Regions from separate parts of the Homo sapiens genome. Here regions 2, 3, 4 and 5 are each linked to region 1. Evidence: fine-mapped expression QTL. A gene starts in region 1. Each other region holds a variant in brackets. All regions are shown on one strand. Distances are from middle to middle. Region 1 holds the start of NAGLU (N-acetyl-alpha-glucosaminidase). Region 2 overlaps STAT5B (signal transducer and activator of transcription 5B). Region 3 overlaps LOC102725238 (a long non-coding RNA gene). Region 4 overlaps ATP6V0A1 (ATPase H+ transporting V0 subunit a1). Region 5 overlaps RETREG3 (reticulophagy regulator family member 3).

What was found.
Region 2: its variant is fine-mapped to the expression of NAGLU in whole blood (TOPMed, PIP above 0.99).
Region 3: its variant is fine-mapped to the expression of NAGLU in lung (TOPMed, PIP 0.95).
Region 4: its variant is fine-mapped to the expression of NAGLU in whole blood (TOPMed, PIP above 0.99). The same link has a PIP of 0.9 or more in lung.
Region 5: its variant is fine-mapped to the expression of NAGLU in monocytes after interferon gamma (Fairfax 2014, PIP 0.95).

The regions. Positions count from the first base shown.
Region 1 is chr17:42,534,215-42,539,343 of GRCh38, forward strand. NAGLU (N-acetyl-alpha-glucosaminidase) reads left to right here and starts at 2,027. Exons shown (of 6, transcript NM_000263.4): 1 at 2,027-2,441; 2 at 3,184-3,331; 3 at 4,125-4,271; 4 at 4,456-4,541. The coding sequence starts at 2,059. It also overlaps the pseudogene PTP4A2P1. RefSeq lists enhancers at 1,740-1,819, 2,333-3,070 and silencers at 1,930-2,339, 2,460-2,529.
Region 2 is chr17:42,215,252-42,220,380 of GRCh38, forward strand. It overlaps STAT5B (signal transducer and activator of transcription 5B), which reads right to left. Exons shown (of 19, transcript NM_012448.4): 6 at 4,461-4,591; 7 at 4,061-4,212; 8 at 3,472-3,627; 9 at 2,900-3,079; 10 at 2,126-2,213; 11 at 1,909-2,031; 12 at 763-855. Among named protein-coding and RNA genes, the nearest start is that of GHDC, 23 kb to the left of the region's middle. The variant G/T (reference allele first, on the strand shown) is at 2,968.
Region 3 is chr17:42,442,703-42,447,831 of GRCh38, forward strand. The region is part of intron 3 of LOC102725238 (a long non-coding RNA gene); the gene reads left to right. Among named protein-coding and RNA genes, the nearest start is that of ATP6V0A1, 14 kb to the right of the region's middle. The variant A/G (reference allele first, on the strand shown) is at 2,835.
Region 4 is chr17:42,476,285-42,481,284 of GRCh38, forward strand. It overlaps ATP6V0A1 (ATPase H+ transporting V0 subunit a1), which reads left to right. Exons shown (of 22, transcript NM_001130021.3): 6 at 1,376-1,458; 7 at 2,179-2,305; 8 at 4,383-4,465. Among named protein-coding and RNA genes, the nearest start is that of MIR548AT, 16 kb to the right of the region's middle. The variant T/TA (reference allele first, on the strand shown) is at 2,644.
Region 5 is chr17:42,602,030-42,607,158 of GRCh38, forward strand. The region is part of intron 1 of RETREG3 (reticulophagy regulator family member 3); the gene reads right to left. Among named protein-coding and RNA genes, the nearest start is that of RETREG3, 4.8 kb to the right of the region's middle. The variant GT/G (reference allele first, on the strand shown) is at 3,233.

The DNA.
Region 1 (5,129 bases):
AAAAAAAAAGAGTTCGAGACCAGCCTGGACAACATGGTGAAATCCCATCCCTACAAAGGTTAACTGGGCTTGGTGGCACGTGCCTGTAATCCCAGCTACTCAGGAGACTGAGACAGGAGAATGGCTTGAACCTGGGTGGCTGAGGTTCCCGTGAGCTGAGATTAAAAAAAAAAATCATACTTCCCTAGTATCTAAAGTTGATATCTGATTCCAGGCCTCTTTCAACTTTTTTTGTTTGTTTGTTTGTTTTTTTGATATGGAGTCTCGCTCTGTCATCCAGGCTGGAATGCAAATGGCACGATCTTGGCTCACTGCAACTTCCACCTCCAGCGTTCAAGCGATTCTCCTGCCTCAGCTTCCCAAGTAGCTGGGACTACAGGCGTGTGCCACCAAGCCTGGCTAACTTTTTTTCTTTTTTTTTTTTTTGAGAGGGAGTCTTGCTCTGTCCCCCAGGCTGGAGTGCAGTGGTGTGATCTTGGCTCACTGCAACCTCCGCCTCTCCGGTTCACGCCATTCTCCTGCCTTAGCCTCCCGAGTAGCTGGGAGTACAGGCGCTCGCCAACACGCCCGGCTAATTTTTTGTATTTTTAGTAGAGATGGAGTTTCACCGTGTTAGCCAGGAGGGTCTTGATCTCCTGACCTCGTATCCGCCCGTCTTGGCCTCCCAAAGTGCTGGGATTACAGGCGTGAGCCACCGCGCCCAGCACCTGGCTAACTTTTGTATTTTTAGTACAGACGGGGTTTCACTGTATGTTGGCCAGGCTGGTCTCAAACCCCTGACTTGAGGTGATCTGCAAGCCTCAGCCTCCCAGAGTGCTGGGATTACAGGCGTAAGCCACCGCTCCTGGCCTAAGGTTGGCTATTTTTATGGTTATTTCTTGATTATATGATAAACAAGGGGTGGGTTAGTAATGAATTTTTCAGAAAAGGGGTGGGGATCCCCCCCAACTGAAGGTTCCTCCACTGTTTAGACCATATAGGGTAACTTCTGGACGTTGCCATGGCATTTGTAAACTGCCTGGCGCTGCTAGGAGTGTCTTTAGCATACTAATGCATTATAATTAGCGTATAATGAGCAGTGAGGACGATCAGAGGTCACCTTCCTGTCTTGGTTTTGGCAGGTTTTGACCAGTTTCTTTGCTGCATTCTGTTTTATCAGCGGGGTCTTGTGACCTTTTATCTTGTGCTGACCTCCTGTCTCATCCTGTGACGAAGGCCTAACCTCCTGGGAATTCAGCCCAGCAGGTCTCTGCCTCATTTTACCCAGCCCCTGTTCAAGATGGAGTCGCTCTGGTTGGAAACTTCTGACAAAATGACAGCTCCTGTTATGTTGCTGCTGCTGCCGCCAATGGACAGCCTTTAACGTGCCCGCCAGCCCTGCTCCACCGCCGGCCTGGGCTCACATGGCCCCATCCCTCCTCGAACCTCCTAGCCTGTTAGTTACTCAAATCTGCAAGCTCTCTGCCTTCTCAGGGCCTTCAATAAATGCATTTCTTCTGTCTGGAAGGCTCTTCCTTTCCCTCTTCTAGCCAATTCCTATTCATCCCTGAGTTTCAGATTAAAAGTCACTTCCTTTGGAAACCTTACTTCGCTACTTCGCTACTTACTGCACTACTTCGCAGCATCACAACTATGATGGAAATCCTTACTTACGTTAAATATCTGGTTTCTAGGTCACCTCCCTGACGGGGACGGTAGGGACCGTCTTCTCGTTCATCAGTAGGGAAGTAGCTATGGCAGTGCCTGATACAAAATAAACTCCAAATGTGTATTTATTAGATGGTTGGATGGAAGTTATTTGCGTGTGAAAGCGCGTTTTACCCGAAGGCGCTCTGTGAGGGCCAGCGGGTCCCCTTCGGCCCTGGAGCCGGGGTCACACGCTCCCCACCGCGTGCGGTCACGAGACGCCCCCAAGGGAGTATCCTGGTACCCGGAAGCCGCGACTCCTGGCCCTGAGCCCGGGCTTAGCCTTCGGGTCCACGTGGCCGGAGGCCGGCAGCTGATTGGACGCGGGCCGCCCCACCCCCTGGCCGTCGCGGGACCCGCAGGACTGAGACCATGGAGGCGGTGGCGGTGGCCGCGGCGGTGGGGGTCCTTCTCCTGGCCGGGGCCGGGGGCGCGGCAGGCGACGAGGCCCGGGAGGCGGCGGCCGTGCGGGCGCTCGTGGCCCGGCTGCTGGGGCCAGGCCCCGCGGCCGACTTCTCCGTGTCGGTGGAGCGCGCTCTGGCTGCCAAGCCGGGCTTGGACACCTACAGCCTGGGCGGCGGCGGCGCGGCGCGCGTGCGGGTGCGCGGCTCCACGGGCGTGGCGGCCGCCGCGGGGCTGCACCGCTACCTGCGCGACTTCTGTGGCTGCCACGTGGCCTGGTCCGGCTCTCAGCTGCGCCTGCCGCGGCCACTGCCAGCCGTGCCGGGGGAGCTGACCGAGGCCACGCCCAACAGGTACCGCCCCGAAGCTTCCCCGCGTCCGCCCGAGGCGCTTACCCCCTCCCGGAGCCGCTGCCACCCAAATCGGGAGGCTGAGCGGGGAGCGCTGGCCGGAAGGCCCAGCTGCGCCGCCTCCAGCAGCTGTGTGGCCTTGAGCCAGCCACTCTGCCTTTCAGAGCCTCGGCTGGCCCACCTGAAAAACGGAAAGAAGACGCCTACCGTGCAGTGTTATTGTGAGGATTTGCACGATGATGGGCATAGAATTTGTGGTGCACAATTGGTGATGAGTGAATTTTCTTGCCTTCCTCCCCCACCTTCTCTTTGAACCTGCGGACTGAGGAAGGACGCCTCCATCCCCCACCCTACAGGCCTGTGTTCCAGCGCCTGCCACACTATGGAGTGATGTGTTCACACAGCTGTCCTCCCCTGCCCATCTGTTAGACTGTGGGGGCAGGGATTCCCCGTTCCAGGAAAACACCGTGCAGAGGAGGGGCTCTGGCAGTGTGGCATGAAAGTGGAATATGCCACCCAAATACCCGCCAGGCTAGAGGGCCCTGGGAGAGTGCAGGGGACGAGTGCCTCAGAAGCCCAGCCCCGGTACCTGGTCTCAGCTCCACCTGGGGTGGGTCCCAGTGTGCAGCAGAAGGGCCGAGTTTGGAGCCCCTCCCCTCTCCTCTAGGTGGGGGATGGGGGATTTGTTCCAGGGCCGTGGACCCTCCAGGGTGGGATGCGCCCCTGCTCATGACACTGCCCGCAGGTACCGCTATTACCAGAATGTGTGCACGCAAAGCTACTCTTTCGTGTGGTGGGACTGGGCCCGCTGGGAGCGAGAGATAGACTGGATGGCGCTGAATGGCATCAACCTGGCACTGGCCTGGAGCGGCCAGGAGGCCATCTGGCAGCGGGTGCGTGCCCACTGTCCCTTCCCCACCCTCCTCTATGGCGGGAGCCACCGTAGGTGTTTTCACCCGCCCCCCAGCATGGGCGCAGTGTCTCTCTCTAGAAGTGCTTTCAGCGTGCACAGTGGCTTGGGCCTCCTAAAAACTGAGGCTTCCGGCCGGGCGCGGTGGCTCACGCCTGTCATCCCAGCACTTCGGGAGGCCTAGGCGGGCGGATCAGGAGTTCAGGAGATCGAGACCATCCTGGCCAACATTGTGAAACCCCGTCTCTACTAAAATACAAAGAAATAGCAACCTGGGCAACAGAGCGAGACTCTGTCTAAAAAAAAAAAAAAAAAAAACTGAGGCTTCCAGTTTGAGGAGTGGGGCTCCTTCCCCCATCTCCCCTATGCAGCCAATCACCTGGTCCCTTGGATCCAACTCATGGGCAGCTCTAGATCTGCCTCCCTGGAAGCTTCTGTGCTGCAATGGCTGCTCCAGGCTCTGCTTAAGCTCTTCACACAGTTGCCCTGCCCTTCCATCTGGCACTCTTGCTCCATGAAGCCTTCTAAGGCCTTCCTGTTGGGGGAAAGCCCCTTTGTGCCCCATCTCCTCACCCATGCGACAAAGGCAACACAGTGAACTCACCTACTCACAGGTCTCTTTCCTCTGGGCTGTGGGCTCCTTGATGGCAGCGTTCGGATTTTGTCTCAGTAGCCCTAGCACCCAGCACAAAGAAGCAATGAGTGAATGGTTGTTGAATGAATGAATGAATGAATGAAGATGAATATATTTCTATGTGTGGGCCCTTCTTCCTCAGGTGTACCTGGCCTTGGGCCTGACCCAGGCAGAGATCAATGAGTTCTTTACTGGTCCTGCCTTCCTGGCCTGGGGGCGAATGGGCAACCTGCACACCTGGGATGGCCCCCTGCCCCCCTCCTGGCACATCAAGCAGCTTTACCTGCAGGTAAAAGGATGGAAAAGGGAAGGGGCAGAATCGGTGATAGATGGTCATGGGCCCAGGAAGGGTGGTATTAGGCCGGCCCCAGGGCTCTTAACTGAGGCGGGGGGCTGCGTGTATCCTGGGAGATGAGGGCCTTCTCATAGGACAGCAGTGGCCATGCTCACCACCCTTCCTTCTGTTCCTCCAGCACCGGGTCCTGGACCAGATGCGCTCCTTCGGCATGACCCCAGTGCTGCCTGCATTCGCGGGGCATGTTCCCGAGGCTGTCACCAGGTGAGGTTCCGCTCACCCCCTCCACTTAGCTCAGAGAGGGAATTTTATTCCCTTCTAGAACATGACTTAAAAACTTAAGCTCTGGGCCGGGCGCAGTGGCTCACGCCTGTAATCCCAGCACTTTGGGAGGCCGAGTTGGGCGGATCACCTGAGGTCAGGAGTTCGAGACCAGCCTGGCCAACATGGTGAAACCCTGTCTCTACTAAAAATATAAAAATTAGCTGGGCATGGTGGCACGCGCCTGTAATCCCATCTACTTAGGAGGCTGAGACAGGAGAATTGCTTAAACCTGGGAGGCAGACGTTGCAGTGAGTCAAGATCACGCCATTGCACTCCAGCCTGGGTGACGAGCGAAACTCTGTCTCAAACAAACAAACAAGCTCTGGACGTAGGCCTGGGTTTGATTTCTGACTCTGCTACTAATTAGCTGTGTGACTTCGGGCAGATGACATGACTGCTCTGTGCCTCAGTTTCCTTACTTGTAAAATGGGATCTCTACCCACTTCGCTGTAGGGTTTGTAATTATCTCTCGATCTATCTGTGACTTTGCACAGAGTGCTAGCAAATGGCAGCCCTTGGGAGTGGCAG
Region 2 (5,129 bases), 320 kb before region 1:
ATGCTAAAGTAAGCCTCTGGAGAGATCTAACCTCTGGAGTGAACCTAGGAGTCCCAAATCCCATTCATAGTTTCACCCAAGGATTCAAAATAATATTTACTGAGTACTGACTGTGTGGCAAGCATTTTCTATGTTATCTAATTTAATCTTCCTAACAATGCTGTAGAGCAAGAGTATCCCTGTGCTGCAGACACTTGCTGGAAACTCAGGCTCAGAGAGGTAAAGTGAACTGCCCATGTGGTCATGGAGTGAGGAAATGGTGGAGTCTCAGTTCAAACCCTGGCCCGATGTCAAGCCCATGTTCTTTCCACTTTCCACATTCTTTCTATTCTGCCTCCCACTAAAGAAAACAGCGTCTTTTTTCCTATGCTTTTTTTTTATTATTGAGATGGAGTCTCACTCTGTCACCCAGGCTGGAGTGCAGTGGTGCGATCTCGGCTCACTGCAACCTCTGCCGCTCGGGTTCAAGTGATTGTCGTGCCTCAGCCTCCCAAGTAGCTGGGACTACAGGCATGTGCCACCACACCCAGCTAATTTTTCGGTATTTTTTAATAGAAACAGGATTTTGCTATGTTGGCCAGGCTGGTCTCGAACTCCTGACCTCAGGTGATCCAACCGCCTCGGCCTCCCAAAGTGCTGGGATTACAAGTGTGAGTCACTGCACCCGGCCTTTTCCTATGCTTTTTAAAAGGATAATACATAAATGAGATTCATGACACCGGCATTGATTTTGGGACCCACATGCCCGAGGAATACACTCACAGGCTCTGCAAAAGCATTGTCCCAGAGAACAGTGGCCGTCGCATTGTTGTCCTGGCTGCCATGAACGATCACCACCACTGGCAGGGACAGGGTCTAAAAAGACACAAGAGAAGGCTGAGCGCCCACGAGCCTCAAGTTCTTCTCCTTCTCTCTTTTTTTTTTTTCTTATTATAACAACACTTTTATTTTCCAAGTTTCAGTTAATGTTCCTCTCAGACACAGAATCTAAATGGCCCCAGGAATAATATGACTTTTCATACTGGCACAATCTTAGAAATTTTAAATATTTTACAAGCAATGTTGCTTAGATATTTCTGAAGGATAAAGTTTCTCAAAGTTACATGGAGAACAGGAGAGAGAAAAGACTATTGGAGATATTTCTGGGAAGAAAATACAAATAACAAATTTAAAACTTACCACAACCTTTACTCAAATTCATCCCAAGTAATGTTTCTCATATCCATTTTGTAGTCTACCTCTCCAGCTAGTTCAGTTCATTATTGTTTGTTCATGTTTTATTTTTTATTTTTTAATTTGTTGTTGTTGTTGAGACGGGGTCTCACAACCAGCTCCAGGCTGGTCTGGAACTCCTGAACTCAAGCAATCCTCCTGCCTTGGCCTCCCAAAGTGTTAGGATTACAGATGTGAGCCACTGCACTGGGCCTTGCTTGTTCATGTCTTTTTTTTTTTTTTTTGAGACAGGGTCTCACTCTTTCACCCAGGCTGGAGTGCAGTGGCACAATCTCGGTTCATTACAACCTCAGCCTCCCAGGTTCAAGTGATTCTCCTGAGTAGCTGGGATTATAGGCACGTGCCACCACGCCTGGCTAATTTTTGTACTTTTTAGTAGAGATGGGGTTTCACTGTGTTAGCCAGGCTGGTCTTGAACTCTTGACCTCAAGTGACCTGACTGCCTCAACCTACCAAAGTGCTGGGATTACAAGCATGAGCCACTGTGCTTGGCCTCTGTTCATGTCTTAAGAGAACCTAAGTGAAACAGTTCTCAGGGTGAGGTCAGTCCATTTTCAGTTTACCAACAGTCAAAAAGAAGAAGATGCTATGTGATAAAAAAAAAATATTTTGTAACATAAAGTACACCACACACACACACGCACACGCACACGCAGAGCTGAGGGAAGGCTTTACCTTGACTTGAAAAACCAGCTCATTTCCACCAACACTGAACTGGGATTCAAACAGGATTGTAAATTTTTCTTCTGTCACCGACTCTGCCCCACGACGGTCTGACCTCTTAATTCGTTTCAGGGACTACAAAGAAGAAACATAAGATGAAACGTAAGATATAAGTTGTTCCCCTCAAAGACCAGGGAAAAATTCATTCTTCCTCTTCTTCCACCCTCACCATATTCCTGAAGTGGGCACTAAGGGTGCCTGTGGCTTGGTGGTACTCCATGACGCAGCAGTTGTTCAAGATCTCGCCACTGTAATCACTGCAAATCAGAGAGAGACCAGCTCCAAACCCATGCCAGGGTCTCAGGACATGCGGAGTAAATAATATAATTTGGGGTAGCAGGAAATAGAGAAGTTTGCTAAAAATGTACGTCATTTAGAGGAAATGTTAGCTACATAACACATACATGTAATCTTCTCGGACGTATCTCTACAAAATGAAACAAGATCAAACTATCTTCACAGAAAACAGTTCCTAAGAGAACTTTTTTTTTTTTTTTTGTGACGGAGTTTTGCTCTTGTTGCCCAGGCTGGAGTGCAGTGGCGTGATCTCAGCTCACTGCAATCTCAGCTCACTGCAATCTCTGCCTCCCAGGTTCAAGGGATTCTCCTGCCTCAGGCTCTCTAGTGGCTGGGATTACAGGTGCCTGCCACCACGCCCGGCTAATTTTTTGTATTTTTAGTAGAGACAGGGTTTCACCATGTTGGCCAGGCTGGTCTTGAACTCCTGACCTCAGGTGATCTGCCCACCTCGGCCTCTTAAAGTGCTTGGATTACAGGTGTGAGCCACCACACCAGGCCCAAGAACTTCCTTATATTCCTTTGCTGATGCCCAGAAGAGGCCAGAAGGGCAAACAGGGATCTGACACAGGAGGCAGAATTCTTTTTTTCCTGTTGCCAGGACATGAGACAAGTAGCAGGGAATGAGAGGAAGCTGCACAATTACTTGCGGGTGTTCTCGTTCTTGAGCAGAGACTTGGCCTGCTGCTCACTGATGATGGTGGCCTTCACCTG[G/T]GGGGGGTTCATGTGCACGTTCAGCTTCCCGCCCACCAGCAGGCGCACAGTGGCTGCAAACTTGGTCTGGGTCTTCAGGACCTGAGGAGGCTGCTTCTCAATGATGAACGTGCTGCAGGGGACACAGGGACAGATGCATGATGAGGGGCTGGTGCAGGGGAAAGGGCTCTCAGTCCCTCTGTGGTGGGGGTGGGGCTGCCTCCCGAGGGGCTCAGGAGGTGAAGAGCTCGGGCACAGCCTCTGTTCCTGGGGAAGCCGTGAGAGTCCAGGGAGAGGATGGAGAGGGGAGTGAGATAACACAGAAGCTGGCATGGGCTGCAGCCCAAGGGCATCTCTTGCAGTGTCCACAGGAGAAACTGGGCAAGGGCCACAGCAACTGGAGATGGAGTTGGGAGGGATGAGAGGCAGGAAGTGGATCTGCTGGTCTGGAAGGCACCTGCGGCTCCCCCCACGCAGGCAGGAGCTGCCCCAAGCTCCTGGGCATGGCAAACAGGCAGCAGTCACCTGGTCACCAGGGCTGAGATAATGTCCGTGATGGTGGCGTTGACCTCGGCCAGCATCTCCTCCACTGGGCCGGGGATGGGCAGCTGCTGGCAGAGGTGCTCAGCCCTGCGGATCTGCTGCCGGTTCTGCCAGATGATCTCGGCCAACTTCTCACACCTGCACGAGAGCCCCAAGGCCAACAGGAGGACAATGGCTCCTCCGCACAGACGCCAGGCCCCAAGACACAGCTCCCGTTCCCCCAGGAAGGCTCTGTGCTTTCGCCACACTTCCCACCCATGGGAAGAGCAGAGCTCCCTGCCTCCCAGAATTAGAGACGTACACAGGAGGGGCGACCCTGACTAGGCCCAAACAGCCCAAGCATCACCCCACACACCCGAACCCTGTCCCATCTCCAGGACAGCAGCCCCCTTCCTGGGGGAGGTGCACAGGATGGGGGCCAAAGTCTGATTGAGGAACCAGGCTCCCTGGAGAAACAAGAGCTGTCCCAGGATGGAGGGGGCCTGCTGCAGGAGCCAGCACAGGACGCAGAAGCAGCCGGGATCCCCACCAGCCCCTCCTGCCCTGCCCGCTGGCCGCCCCACACCATTACCAGGACTGTAGCACGTCCAGGCTGCCCTCGGGGGGCCCGCCGTTCCCGGCCAGCTGCTGCCGCCGCTTCCACTGGATCAGCTCGTCATCCAGGATGATGGTCTGCTGCTTCCGCAGCAGCTGCAGGGTCTTCTGGTGCTTCTCGGCCAGCTCCTGAGGGAAGGGAGGAGAGCAGCCCCTTCTGGGCTCCCAGAGAACACCGCAGGGCCTCGCTGGGAAATGGCAGGGCAGGGCCCAGGCCGTTCCCTCTCCCCAAGCTGCTCTGCCTCGCAAGGCCCCCAGGAAAAAAGGCCTCCTGCCCTCCCAGGTTCTGCTCTCATGCTGGTCCCAGCCCTCCCTCGGGTCCCCAGAGACTGACTTCATGGCACCCACGCCCAGGAGAGGCCCAGGACCCCACTCACCACGCGGTACTGCTGCAGTGTCTGTGCCTCACGCTGCAACCAGGCCTCCAGAGACACCTGCTTCTGCTGGAGGGCCGTCTCCCGGCTCAGACGCTCCTGGGGGCTCAGCTGGGCCAGCGGGCCAAACTGAGCTAGAGGAGGGGAGAGGAAACCATGACCATCACCTCCCAGTGTCCAACAGGAGGCCCAGAGAAGCCCACTCACCCGTTCTGGAGCGAGACCCTCCTGGGCTCAGATACTGCATTAAGGGCAAGTCGGGGTTCCTGACAGCCAGGGGGGCCAAGATGAATGGGTGCCCCAGGAGGCGCCTCTGGGCCCTGCTCGCCAGCCTCCTGACTCTGAGCCGTCCCCTCTGGGGGCACACGGGTGCTGGGGCAGCTGGGGAGGAGGCCTGCCTGCCTCCTGCCCGCCTGCCTCACAGGGCTGCCAGCCCTCTTCTCGCGGCCCAGCATGGGTCCAGGCTGTCTGGGGTGTAAGTGTGCCCATGCCCTTGACTGCAGGTGAACCTGGGCAAATCGCTTTCCTTTCCTGTGCCTTGGCTTCCCCACGTGTAAAACGGGAGATTCTCGGCACCTGCCTCAGTGGGGTGCATTAAGATTAAATACATGAGGACATGGAAGATGCCAGAAAGCTGCCTGACATGGGTGAGCTCTGTGTGAGGTTCGTGCT
Region 3 (5,129 bases), 92 kb before region 1:
GACTTTATTATTTTTTCTTTAAAACAATATTTATTCTTTTTTGTTGAGACTGGGTGTCACTATGTTGCCCAGGCTAGTCTTGAACTCCTGGGCTCAAGCCATCTTCCTGCCTCAGCCTCCCAAAATGCTGAGATTACAGGTGTGAGCCACTGTGTCTGGCCAAGAAACCCCATGCCCTTTAGCCATCACGTTCCATTCTCCCCATCACCCCAGCCCTAGGCATTAATAATCCACTTTTTGCCTCTATAGATTTGTCTACTCTAGACATATCATATAAATGCAGTCACATATGTGGTCTTTTTTGACTGACTTCTTTCACTTACTATGTTTTCAAGGTTTTTGTTGTAACATGTGTCATTACTTCATCCCTTTTTATTGCTGAATAACATCTCATTGTATGGCTATACTACACTTTCTTTATCCATTCATCCATTGTTGAACATCTGGGTTGTTTCCAATTTTGGGCTATTGTGTATAATGCTGTTATGAACATTTGTGTACACGTTTTTCTGTGGACATTTGGTTTTTATTTCTCTTAGGTGTATACCTAGGAGTGGAATTGTTGGATTATATGGTAACTCTATGATAAGCCTTTTAAGAAATTGCCAGACTATTTTCCAAAGTAGTTGCCCCATTTTACATCTTCACCAGTAGTGAATGGGGGTTCCGATTTCTCCATATCTTCACCATGAATCTTTTTAAGAAAATAGATTATTGACCAGAGGTCAGGCATTCGAGGCCAGCCGGGCCAACATGGCGAAATCCCTCCTCTAATAAAAATACGAGTATTATTGGCTGGGCACGGTGGCTCATGCCTGTAATCCCAACACTTTGGGAGGCCGAGGCGGGTGGATCACGAGGACAGGAGATTGAGACCATCCTGGCTAACACGGTGAAACACTGTCTCTACTAAAAATGCGAAAAATTAGCCAGGTGTGGTGGCGGGCGCCTATAGTGCCAGCTACTTGGGAGGCTGAAGCAGGAGAATCGCCTGAACACAGGAGGCGGAGGTTGTAGTGAGCTAAGATCATGCCACTGCACTCCTGCATGGGTGACAGAGTGAGACTCTGTCTCAAAAACAAAACAAAACAAAAAACAAATATTAGCAGGCTGTGGTGATGCATGCCTATAATCTCAGCTACTCAGGAGGCTGAGGCAGGAGTATTGCTTGAACCCGGGGAGGCAGAGGTTGCAGTGAGCTGAGATCGTGCCATTGCACTCCAGCCTGGGCAACAGAGCAAGACTCTGTCTCAAAAACAAAACAAAACAAAACAGATTATTGATATATAATTCACATACCACACAATTCACTCAAAGAGTGCAATTCAATGGTTTTGGTATATCATGTTAATTTTTAAAATTGTGGTAAAATATAAAAGTTGCCATTTTAACCATTATATATATAAATATATGTGTGTGTGTGTGTGTGTGTGTGTGTGTGTGTGTATATATATATTTTTTTTTTTTTTTTGAGATGGAGTCTTGGTCTATTGCCAGGCTGGAGTGCAGTGGCATGATCTTGGCTCACTGCAACCTCTGCCTCCCGAGTTCAAGCAATTCTCCTGCCTCAGCCTCCCAAGTAGCTGGGACTATAGGCACACAACACCATGCTCAGCTAATTTTTGAATTTTTAAATTCTTACTCCTTCTAGGACTCTGACGACATAATTTTCTTTCTTTCTTTCCTTTTTTTTTTTTTTTTTTTTGAGGCAGAGTCTCACTCTGCTGCCATGTGAACTATGTTGGCCAGGATGACCTTCTTGATCTCTTGACCTCGTGATCCGCCCACCTTGACCTCCCAAAATGCTGGGATTACAGGCGTGAGCCACTGTGCCCGGCCATATATATATATATATATATATATATATTTTTTTTTTTTTTTTTGTAATATAGAGACGGAGCCTTGCTATGTTGCTCAGGCTACTCTTGAACTCCAGGCCTCAATGTATTCTCCCACCTCAGCCTCCTAAAGTTCTGGGATTGTAGAAATGAGCCACTGTGCCTGGTCCCCATTTTAACCTTTTTTTTTTTTTTGAGATGGAGTCTTGCTCTGTTGCACAGGCTGGAGTGCAGTGGTACGATCTCGGCTCACTGCAACCTCCACCTCTTGGGTTCAAGCAATTCTTCTGCCTCAGCCTCCCGAGTAGCTGGGATTACAGGCACTCGCCATCATACCCAGCTAATTTTTGTATTTTTAGTAGAGATGGGGTTTCACCATGTTGGACAGGTAGTGCTCGAACTCCTGATCTAAGGTGATCCACCTGCCTCAGCCTCCCAAAGTGCTGGGATTACAGGCATGACACCGCGCACAGCCTTAACCATTTTTTAATGTACAATTCAGTGGCATTAATTACACTGACAATGTGCATAACTATCACCACTATCTATTTCCAAAATAAAAGAGAAATTCTGTTCCCATTAAACAACAATTCTCCATTCCCTGCTTCTCCTAGCCCCTGGTAATCTGTAATCTACTTTCTGTCTCTATAAATTTGCCTAGTCTAGTCTAGTCTAGATATTTCACTTAAGTGGAATCATACAATATTTGTCCTTTTACAATCTGCCTTATTTCACTTAGCATGTTTTCAAGTTTCATCCATGTTGTAGCATGTGTCATACTTTCATTCCTTTTTATGAAATTTAATTTTAATATTAAAGAATATTTCAGTCCAGGTGTGGTGGCTCATGCCTATAATCCCAGCACTTTGGGAGGCTGAGGTGGTCAGATTGCTTTGAGCTTAGGAGTTTGAGACCAGCCTAGGCAACATGGCCGAACCCTGTCTCTACTAAAATACAAAAATTAGCCGGCCATGATGGCGGGCGTCTGTAATCTCA[A/G]GTACTCGGGAGGCTGAGGCAGGAGAATCGCTTGACCCCGGGAGGCAGAAGGCGGAGGTTGCAGTGAGCCGAGATTGTGCCACTGCACTCCAGCCTGGGCAGCAGAGCGAGACTCTGCCTCAAAAAAGAAAAGAAAAGAAAGAAAGAAAGGGGAGAGAGGGAGAGGGAGAGAGGGAGAGAGGGAGAGAGGGAGAGAGGGAGAGAGGGAGGGAGAGAGAGAGAAAGAGAGAGAGAAAGAGAGAGAGAGAGAGAAAATTATGTCGTCAGAGTCCTAGAAGGAGTAAGAATGTAAGACCGAAAACTTATTCAAAGAAATAATGGGCTGGGTGTGGTGATTCACGCCTGTAATCCCAGCACTTTGGGAGGCCGAGGCAGGAGGATCACGAGGTCAGGAGATCGAGACCATCCTGGCTAATACAGTGAAACCCCGTCTCTACTAAAAATACAAAAAAAAATTACCCGATGTGGTGGCGGGCGCCTGTAGTCCCAGTTACTCGGGAGGCTGGGGCAGGAGAATGGCGTGAACCCGGGAGGCGGAGCTTGCAGTGAGCCGAGATCGCGCCACTGCACTCCAGCCTGGGTGACAGAGCGAGACTCCGTCTCAAAAAAAAAAAAAAAAAAAAAAAAAAAAAAAAAAAAAAAAAGAAAAAGAAAAAAAAAGAAGAAATAATGGCAGAAAATTCCTCAAATTTGACAAGAGACCTAGAACTACAAGTTCAAGAAGCTGAGAAAACCACAAACATGATAAACTCAAAGAAATCTATACCAGGACACGTAATAATCTAACTCCTGAAAACTAATAACAAAGAAAAAATCTTGACAGCAGTAAGAGAAAAACATCTTTCTCATAAGGGAAAAACAGATTGAACCACAATAGATTTCTCACCAGAAACTAAAAAAGGCCAGAAGAAAGTGGCACAACTTTTTTCAAATGCTAGAAGAAAAAAACTATCAAAGATGAAAGAGAAATCAACACATTTTCAGATGAAGAAAAACTAAGAGAATTTGTCATTTGTAGATCTACCCTTTAAAAAAGTGGCTAAAAGGGGGCCGGGTGCAGTGGCTCATGCCTGTAATCCCATCACTTTGGGAAACCGAGGCAGGCGGATCACTTGAGGCCAGGAGTTTGAGACCAGCCTGGCCAACGTGGCAAAACCTAGTCTCTACTAAAAATACAAAAATTAGCCAGGCATAGTGGCACATGCCTGTAGTCCCAGCTACTCTGGAGGCTGAGGCAGGAAAATCGGTTGAACCTGGGAGGTGGAGGTTGCAGTGAGCAGAGATCGCACCACTGCAATCCAGTCTTGGTGACAGGGCAAGACTCCATCTCAAAAAAAAAAAAAAAAAAGCTAAAGGAAGTTCTTGAAAAGAAAGGGAAATGATAAAAGAAGGGACCTTGGAACATCAAGGATGAAAAAAGAACGTGGAGTGGCCCACACTTGTAATCCCAGCACTTTGGAAGGCCGAGGCGGGCGGATCACGAGGTCAGGAGATCGAGACCACGGTGAAACCCCGTCTCTACTAAAAATATAAAAAATTAGCCGGGCGTGGTGGCGGGTGCCTGTAATCCCAGCTACTCAGAGAGGCTGAGGCAGGAGAATGGCGTGAACCCGGGAGGCGGAGCTTGCAGTGAGCTGAGATCGCACCACTGCACTCCAGCCTGGGTGACAGAGCGAGACTCTGTCTCAAAAAAAAAAAAAAAAGAAAGAAAAAAGAACGTGGAAAGCAAATATATGAGTAATTGCAATATACTTTCCTTCTTGTATTAGTCATCTAGGGCTTCCATAACAAAATACTGCAGACTGGGTAACTTAACCAACAGAATTTATTTTCTCACAGTTCTGGAGGCTGGAAGTCTAAGACCAAAGTGTTGGTAGGTTTGGTTTTTCCTGAGGCCTCTTTTCTTGGCCTGTAGATGGCCACCTTCTTGCTGTGTCCTCCCATGGCCTTTTGTCTGTGTGTGACCACTCCTGGTGCTTTTTCCTCTTCTGAAAAGGACACTGGGCCGGGCGTGGTGGCTCACCCCTGTAATCCCAGCACTTTGGGAGGCCAAGGCAGGCGGATCACCTGAGGTCGGGAGTTCGAGACAAGCCAACATGGAGAAACCCCATCTCTACCGAAAAAACAAAATTAGCCGGGCTAATCCAACAGGACTGGTGTCCTTTTTTGTGGGGGGGGACGGAGTCTTGCTCTGTTGCTCAGGATGGAGTGCAGTGGCACAATCTCAGCTCACTGCAACCTCCACCTCCCAGGTTCAAGTGATTCTCCTACTTTAGCCTCCCGAGTAGCTGAGAT
Region 4 (5,000 bases), 58 kb before region 1:
AGGCCTTCAGACTTATCATCTGGTTTATACACAGTTTTTCCCCCTTTTTGCTATGTTTATGATCCCATGACTTTATCAAGTTATGGTCCCTGTGCCACTTTTTAAGAGTGTGGCTGACAGGGGTAGAATCAAATTGAAATTTGGAATGAAAATGATAGAGAAAAACTCTTCTGATTTTTTGTCTTATTGTGCTTTTGAAGAGGATGATTGTTCTGGTTTACTCCTAGTTTTTGGTCAAACAAGTATTGCCTGGGTATTAGAGTTGGGGAGATGAGGCAATGGAGAAGTTGATTGGACTGGTTTTTGTTTTGTTTTGTTTTGTTTTGTTTTTTGGAGCAGCTTCTCCTTTCTGATGGGAGTAAAGGGTGGTAGGATGAGTTCGGTAGAGAGAGGCTAGGAAATGTAGACCTGCGTGTGGGAAGATCCTTCTTCATTTCATTGTATAAACTGTCATGGTGGAAGTCATTTTAAATCTTACCAATTAAACCAGCCCATGAACTCTAGTTTGGTTTATTATCTGTTGTTTTTCCTTCACTTTACTTGATTCTTGAGCTGTGTTCTCAAGAATCCTACAACTGTAAAGCCTATGTGAACTTATTTAGAAGATTCCTAGTCAGAAAATGGGACATTCAGATATGTTTTTACAGGCCTGCCCAGCTATTGTGCTTCTTATCCTTTTGAAGACATAAATACTCTTTAAATCCCATGGCTTGGATCATTCTATAAGTGGCCATGCTGAAAGTTCTCATATTCTGAATTTTAAAGGGGCTGGAAACGTAGATACCTGGAGCTTCCCCTTCTGTCTTTCTCCAGACTTCACAGCATTCAAAGACAGTGGCAGTGCCTTGCTTCTTCCTTGGAAAGAGAGCCTCTATCTTTCACATTCTCACGTAGGGAAAATTCTAGTTTGTAGCTGCCTAGAAATTAAATGTTCAGAGTATCTGCAGAGTCTCTTCATTATTGCACAGAAAGAAGAGATATTTTAGCTTCCTATCTACATGCAGAGGTATTTCCTGGCACTTTCATCATTCATTCAGGGAAACGTAGGAGAGAAAATGGCTTCCACCAAGTAACAGATTTATACATGTCACCATCACTTAATTTTTTTTCCTTTTGCTCCTTATTTCTAAAACCATTTCCCCAGATGCTTTACTGGGGCAATTATGCTTTCTTTACCTCAAATTTATTTTCTGTGTTTTCATCCCCTATTCTTCTTGTCTTTTTATGGATATATCTTGTCTTTTCGTGGTTTGTTTTCTTTTTCATCCTTATTTTCTGAACCTGTCTCCTGGTTCCTCGTTGCCTGCATGCCACTAACTATTTTCATTAGATATTAATTGATTTGTGAATTCAGGCTGAATTGCATCATCAGCAGATGGCGGATCCAGACTTGTTGGAAGAGTCCTCATCCCTCTTGGAGCCAAGTGAGATGGGAAGAGGCACTCCTTTAAGACTTGGGTAAGTGCCATGTCAACTTTTCGGTATTCAGTGGGGCCATGTTCATCTCTTCTGTTCAGAAGAGCAGTGAGACTGGGGATTCACTTGCTACCAGGATATGCCCTCTTCTGAGCCTATTGAGATAGTCCTACAACTCTGGATTCATGCCTGAGTTGCTCTGTCAGCTCTCTGCTGGGTCCATAAGTGAAGCTGGGAATAAGACTTGTATTAAACCAACCCAAATGTCCATCAATGATAGACTGGATTAAGAAAGTGTGGCACATATACACAATGGAATACTATGTAGCCATAAAAAATGATGAGTTCCTGTCCTTTGTAGGGACATGGATGAAGCTGGAAACCATCATTCTCAGCAAACTATCACAAGGACAAAAAACCAAACACCACATGTTCTCACTCATAGGTGGAAATTGAACAATGAGAACACTTGGACACAGGAAGGGGAACATCACACACCGGGGCCTGTTGTGGGGTGGGGGGAGGGGGGAGGGAGAGCATTAGGAGATATACCTAATGTAAATGACGAGTTAATGGGTGCAGCACACCAACATGGCACATGTATACATATGTAATGAACCTGCACGTTGTGCACATGTACCCTAGAACTTAAAGTATAATAAAAAAAGATATATATATAAATATAAATAAAAAAGACTTGTATTAAAACCTTCCATCCCATGACATGGAATAGAGTTTCCAATCTGCCTCTTCTCCCCACAGCTTCGTGGCTGGTGTCATTAACCGGGAGCGCATCCCTACTTTTGAGCGCATGCTTTGGCGGGTATGCCGGGGAAATGTGTTCCTGCGACAGGCTGAAATCGAGAACCCCCTGGAGGATCCTGTGACTGTAAGACAAGGAGATTGCATCCTGTGGAGTAGGTCTTGTAAAGGGAGCCCAGAGCAGTAACGTAGCATGGGGCCACCTGAATCCAGTGCTTCCACAGAGGAGCCATTATCTTTATCTCTGCTCTAATTGGAGAATTTGAAGTACTTCCTCTTAGTTAATTCCTGTCATATATACATATGGATGTATGATGTATACATGACATATACATATTTTCAAGTTTACCCGTGTAGATGTTATTCTGATTGGAAATTTTTATTTTCACTCATTTGCCTTTTATGAAAATTAACTTTAAAGCAAGACATCTGGTTCCAAATTTGGTAATTTTTTTTTTTTTGAGG[T/TA]GGAGTCTCACTCTGTTGTCCAGGCTAGAGTGCAGTGGCGCGATCTCGGCTCACCACAACCTCCGCTTCCTGGGTTCAAGCGATTCTCCTGCCTCAGCCTCCCGAGTAGCTGGGGATTACAGGCATGTGCCATGATGCCTGGCTAATTTTTTCTGTATTTTCAGTACAGACAGTGTTTTACCATGTTGCCTAGGCTGGTCTTGAACTTCTGATCTCAAGTGATCTGCCTGCCTCGGCCTCCCAAAGTGTTGGGATTATAGGCATAAGCCACCATGCCCAGCCCCAAGTTTGGTAATATTCATGTATAAAAAGAGAAGGAGAGATTTCCTAGACTGTGATCTTAATAAGCTGATGAAATTTTACTTGGTAAAGTTTTTTTGTTTGTTTGTTGGAAGGATTAGAAACTTAGTTTAAGAATAGATATCGCACAAAATAGGATGATCTTCCCCACCCAGTACTTCAGGAAGTAGAAACAGTTTAACATCCTGGCATTTGCCATAATGGGACAGAGTTTATCGTCTAAACCTGCATTTAGGTATGGTGAGTCCTGATTTCAGGGAGTACCAGTGAAGATAAATGTACTGCAAAAATTTTGCTTTGCTTTTGTACTAGTATTATTTAGAAACCTAAAGTTAGCTTTTCTGTTCTAAATTATCTTGTGAATTTCTTAAATTCGTGTTCTTTACCTAAAAAGAGAGAGATTGAATTGTGAGATTTCTCAGATTGGGTGGGCTGTGCAGCTGCAGGTCTTTCATCCTCCATGCCGTGGAGGAGTGTGGTTACACTTCAGGTGAACCCCCTGCCTAGGGGTGTAGTTTCACAATCTTGCCAAAGGCCATCAGGTTGTGGAAACGTTGTAATTTGTAGTCACATTAATGAGGAACTTTTCTCAGGAATATTCAGTCAAGTTTCCTCTTGGCAACAGAAAGGTTATTTTATCAACAAATCCAGAAATGGGGACCCTGGATATCTGTAACAGAGCAGGCTGCACAAAGAATGGGTTCTAGTTTAGCCTACAGAATTTAGGGATTTCAGACCCTTGAGCCCAATTTTCTTCACTCCTCATCCCCTTTTATCCTTCTAAAGTTTTGTTTGTTATTATAAAAGCTCTACATGCTGTGTATGACTATGAGAAAATACAGGCAACCTGAGACAATCCTGGTTAACACACCATACACCTTTTTTTCTGATCTTTCCTTCCAGTCCTTGCATCATACTTCAGGTATAAATTTGGTATTTGGAATGGATTACCTTCCTCCCTGCCCCATAAAGTCCAGATTAGCTTGAATTGTGAGATTCTATATCAGCATTCTTTCCAGGGACTCAGTTCCTTGTAGTTATTCAGCCCCTTTTATCTAAGAATTTCTAAGTCCCAGAACAGGCAGAAATGGCTTCCTTCTCTTTTCTCTCCTATACTTTCATCATTCAGGCAATATAAGATTTAAAGCTGAATTGGTAAATAAGTCTAAACAGTGCTAAGAGGAGCATCATCTTAGCTTCAAGCTCCTGGTTGAGTCAAAAAAACAAATAGAGAAAGATTTTTGTGAATTAGAGATTATAGGGCAGATGTTCTTGTAGTGAAGCTTAGGAAATGGAGTGAGGGCAGTGGTTAAAATGCAGGACTGCCATGTCCTTAAAAGATGCCTGTTGTTCTTGCATCACCAAAAAAGTGGGTTATTTAAGAGATTTTCATCCAGATACAGAAGTCTGAACTCTTGTTTTTTTATTCTGGGGCCTAGGGCGACTACGTGCACAAGTCTGTGTTTATCATTTTCTTCCAAGGCGATCAGCTGAAAAACAGAGTCAAGAAAATCTGTGAAGGGTAAGAGAGGCATGCCTCTACCAGGAGTGCACAGCCATGCTGCCCAACTGTTGAGTCTTAAAGTTCACAATAGTGAAATACAAATCCTTTTTAGTCTACCTCAACACAGTTAATTTTAATAATGTTAGGGGCTATTTTAATCAATTAGAAATAGCCTGCATTCATTTTTATTTTTATTTTTGTTGTTCAGATGGGGGGGTCTCACTCTGTTGCCCAGGCTGGAGTGCAGTGGCATGATCACGGCTCACGGCAGCCTTGACTGCCTGGGCTCAGGGGATTCTCCTGCCTCAGCCTCTAGGGTAGCTGGGACTACAGGCGTGTGCCACCATACCTGGCTAATTTTTTGTATTCTTTGTAGAGACGGGGTTTTGCCATGTTGCCCAGGCTGGCCTGGAACTCCTGGACTCAAGGGATCTGCCCATCTCAACCTCCCAAAGTGCTGGGATTAGAGGCGTGAGCCACTAAATTCTTTTTCTCTTTTTTTTTTTTTTCTGACCGAGTCTCCCTCCACGCCCAGGCTGGAGTACGATGGTGC
Region 5 (5,129 bases), 68 kb after region 1:
TTATTGGTCGGGCACCGTAGCTCACACCTGTAATCCCAGCCTTTGGGAGGCCGAGGCAGGTGGGTCACTTGAGGTCAAGAGTTCAAGACCACTTTGGCCAACATGGTGAAACTCCATCTCTACTAAAAATACAAAAATCAGCCAAGACATGGTGGTGCACGCCGGTAGTCCCAGCTACTTGGGAGGCTGAGGCAGGAGAACTGCTTGAATCTGGGAGGCAGAGGTTGCAGTGAGCTGAGATCATGCCACTGCACTCCAGTCTGGGCCACAGAGTAAGACTCCGTTTCAAAAAAAAAAAAGTAAGAAAATAGCTTTATTGAGATAATGGTTTGTATACGATAAAATTCTCTTTCAATTCATCTGCCAGCAGCAGAGATGAAAAAAAAATCACAATGCTGTACGACTAATAGCCTTATGTAATTTCAGAACATTTTCATCACTCCAAAAGAAACCCATACCCATTAGTATTCTTTCTCCATTTCCCCCAGCCCTGGAAAAGCTTCTTAAGTGGCTTAAAATATGTTACCAAACTACTTGCTAGAAAGGCTGTCCAATTTATGTTCCTATCAGCCATATGCCCATTTTTCCATATTTTCCCCAGAATTAATTATGATCATTAAAAATACTTAAGGCCAGGTGTGGAGGCTCACACCTGTAATCCCAGCACTTTGGGAGGCCAAGGTGGGTGGACTGCTGGAGCCCAGGAGTTCAAGACCAGCCTGGGCAACATGGTGAAACCTTGTTTCTACGAAAAATACAAAACAATTAACCAGGTGTGGTGACACACACCTGTAGTCCCCACTACCTGAGAGGCTGAGGTGGGAGGATGGCTTGAGCCCAGAGGTTGAGGTTGCAATAAGCCATGATCACACCACTGCTCTCGAGCCTGGGCGACAGTGAGATCCTGTCCCCCGCCAAAAAAAAAACTTAAGATAGAAATTAGTAAATAATTTCCATTTACATATATTTGAATTCTTTTCTTATTTGTGAGAGTGAAATTTTATATATCCATTGATTTTTTTTTCCCCTTTTGTGAACTGTCCCTCCACTCTGTCAGGGACTAAAATCCAATTAAATGATCAGTCTAAATAAAATATCCCTGGAATAGCAATTGGTGTCCAGAAACATCGTGAGAAATTCCAGAACCAAACATAAACTTTTGTGATTAACTATACCATGGAGCCTCACTATTAGTACCAGTAAATTAAAGTTTGCTATAATCATAAATAATGACCACATGTCTATTTTCAAAGACATGATTTCTAGGTTCCTTTGTTATTACAGATTAAGATTGTCTCAAGGGCACTTCAAAACAAAGCATCCCATTCTACAGGGACAGAAAGCCTGTTACTGTACAGCACTTGTGACCGCCTGGTTAATGAGCCCAAGTCACCGGTAAATTCAAAGGAAAAATTAACCCAACCTATATCATGCAGTGACAGTTGTTGCTTGCAAAAAAACCAGAAATGAAATCAGCTAGCTGCTAACAGTGGAGAGAAAGCACTCAACCATACAATTAGGGCAGATAAAAACTAAAGGTAAAGAGAGGGGAAGTAAATAAACCAAGGCATCCTTGGGAGTCTTCTCGGCTCACAAAGACAAGAACCCTGCAAAGACTATCATCAGGAACATTCACTCAACAGATTTCATTAGAAATCTGATGTGTAGCCGGGCGCGGTGGCTCACGCCTGTAATCCCAGCACTTTGGGAGACCGAGGCGGGCGGATCACGAGGTCAGGAGATTGAGACCATCCTGGCTAAAACGGTGAAACCCGGTCTCTACTAAAAATACAAAAAATTAGGTGGGCATGGTGGCGGGCGCCTGTAGTCCCAGCTACTCGGGAGGCTGAGGCAGGAGACTGGCGTGAACCCGGGAGGTGGAGCTTGCAGTGAGCCGAGATCGCGCCACTGTACTCCAGCCTGGGCGACAGAGCGAGACTCCGTCTCAAAAAAAAAAAAAAGAAAAGAAATCAGATGTGTAGATTTTTTTTAACAGAACAAATATCTCTACTTAAATGGGCTCCCCATCTTCCATTTCTTGTTTCTATTATTTTTTACTCAAATCCTAACCTTCTAACTCAGAATTGCTGTATATCCTTAATCACTTTTTTGGGTCATTTTTATTTATTTATTTTTTTGGGGGGGCGGACAAAAATAAAATTTTTACATTTCATTTGTGAAATAACAAATTCTATAATAACCTCCTAGAAATACAGTATGGTTCACTGAGACTAGTGACTGCAAAAAGCAGATCCCAACAGAGATCTCTACTTGGGACTCAGCTTGTGGACTGCTCCAAAACAATATTCCTAATTCATAGACTATGTAGATTCACAGATTGTTAAAAACCACAAAGCAGTCAAGGTGCAGTGGGTCATGCCTGTAATCCTAGCACTTTAGGAGACCAAGCCGGGAGGGCTGTTAGAGATGAGGAGTTTGAGACCAGCCTGGGCAACATATTGAGATTCTGTCTCTACAAAAGTTTTGCAAATAGGCTGGGCCCAGTGGCATGTGCCTCTAGTCCCAGCTACTTGGAAGACTGAGGCAAGAGGACTGCTGGAGCCCAGGAGGTAGAGGCTGCAGTGAGCTATGATTGTGCCACTGCACTCCAGCCTGGGCAACAGAGGGAGACCCTGTCCAGCCCAACAACCCCCGATTCCCCAGCAAAAAAAAAAAAAAAAAAAAAAAACTGAAAGAGCTCAGCAGTTATGTAGGCCTCCTTGAACTATCTCTTCATGTTAGGTGGGAGAGGGAGCTTGGAGTTCACACATTTCCAGTGTTCATTTACCCTCCTCTGATCTCAGAGTACAAGTCAAACCAAAAAGTTACCCAAACCTGTTCTTTTCTGATCCTGTCAGGATACATGCTTGTTGACTCTCACATTCTTCCCCCAAATCACTCATTCACAGATGAGGTTGAGACTAATGAAAACACAAGCTATTGGAAGGAACGGCCTGACATTTCTATTATTATGCTAGAGACAATAACAGATCAGTGACCAGAAGTAATCTAGGCTGGAAGACCTCTGATATGGCCACCATAAATTCTCTGGTACCTGAAAAAAAAAAAAGTATGAAAACCTTGGAATACTATGGTGACAAGGTATCTACATCTATCTCCATCTTTTTTTTTTTTTTTTAAGATGTAAGAGGGCATATTCACAGTTACGGCAAAATATGACTGAGGATACAAAACACTGAAAATTAAGAGCTACCTACCTGAATTCTGATGG[GT/G]TTTTTTTTGTACTCCTATCTCCTAATACCTCAAAATGCATAAAAATCTCAGTTAATGATATGTCATTTTTGTCCCATTATTCAATACAATAAAAGAGAAACTAAATATTTCAGATTTGATTTTTCTGACTTGAGCTAATGATCCTCCTCCCTTTCTTAAACATTTAAAATGTTTGTTAACTGAACAGTCAGTCACTCTTCCACATTTCTAAGCGAAATGTCAACACTCATACTCAATATGACACTACTAGAATGTGAAGCCCAAATTTCATTTTAAATCTCTAATTACCTACCAAGGAAGCTCATTTCCCCAAACAATTCTGTGAACTCCAATGCCAGACTATCCAAGTTTCTGGGGACTTAACAGTATCTGTGCCTTTCACATGTAGGAGTCCTCTCCAGAAATGGCATACCCAACTGTTCTTTTAGTCTCAAGAGTCACATTGTCGGCCAGGGACAGTGGCTCACACCTGTAATCCCAGCACTTTGGGAGACCGAGGTGGGTGGATCACCTGAGGTCAGGAGTTCAAGACCAGCCTGGCCAACATGGTGAAACTCTGCCCTACAAAAATACAAAAATTAGCCAGACGTGATGGTGGGTGCCTGTAATCCCAGCTACTCGGGAGGCTGGGGTGGGAGAATCGCTTGAACTTAGGAGGTGGAAGTTGCAGTGAGCCAAGATCACGCCATTGCACCCCAGCCTGGGTGACAGAGCGAGACTCCATCTCAAAAAAAAAAAAAAAAAAAAAAAGTCACATCCTCATTTTGTTGTCTCTCTCCTGCACCTTCTTAAAATGTGATGGGACTGTAACAAGAGTAACTGTGTTCTGGATACACAACAGACAAGCTACTAGGAAATGCCAAAGATAAAGACCAATCACAGCAATGCTTTAAGAGACCCAGAGTACAAAAGGGGTTCTAAGTGAGCCTCTAAACATAGCATGTTAATAAGCTTAAGTAAACACTGGTAGAGGCCAGCAAATTAAAGCTAGCTGTAACATCTAAAGATATGTCCCAGTCACAGCAGCTCTTTATGTGCAGACCTCAACCTCACATTCTGCTTCAGAAACCTCTCTCAGACAAGCGGCAGAAGAAAGGTCCCCTCCTCGCAGATCACGAGGTCAGGAGATTGAGACCATCCTGGCTAACACGGTGAAATCCCGTCTCTACTAAAAAAAAATACAAAAAATTAGCCGGGCGTGGTGGCGCGTGCCTGCAATCCTAGCTACTCGGGAGACTGAGTCAGGAGAATGGCGTGAACCCGGGAGGCAGAGCTTGCAGTGGGCCGAGATGGCGCCACTGCACTCCAGCCTGGGCGACAGAGCGAGACTCCATCTCAAAAAACAAAAATTAATTAAAAAAAAAAGGTCCCCTCCTCAAAAAGAACAGCATACATGCTACTAATTCATTTGCATTCATAAATCTTTGGTTTAAAAATCCATTTAAGGCCCGGTACAGTGCAGTGGCTCACACCTGTAATCCCAGCACATCGGGAGGCTGAGACAGGTGGATTGCTTTGAGGTCAGGAGTTTGAGACGAGCCTGGGCAACCTGGCAAAACTGTCTCTACAAAAAAATACAAAAATTAGCCAGGCATTGGTGGCGCATGCCTGTAATCCCAGCTGCTCGGGAGGCTGAGGCAGGAGAATCGCTTGAACCTGGGAGGAGGAGGTTGTAGTGAGCTGAGATCGTGCCATTGCACTCCAGCCTGGGCAACAAGAGCCAAACTGTCTCAAAACAAAAATAAGTAAACCCTGATAAAGTGTTTTTTTCCATCAGGCAGTCATACTTTGATACAAATTGGTTTAATGAGGCCCAGCCTTCTTGCTAGAGATACCAAAACCACTGTGGGAAATGTTTTGACTGGATAAAACACTCTTCAGTGAGGTGCTATAGT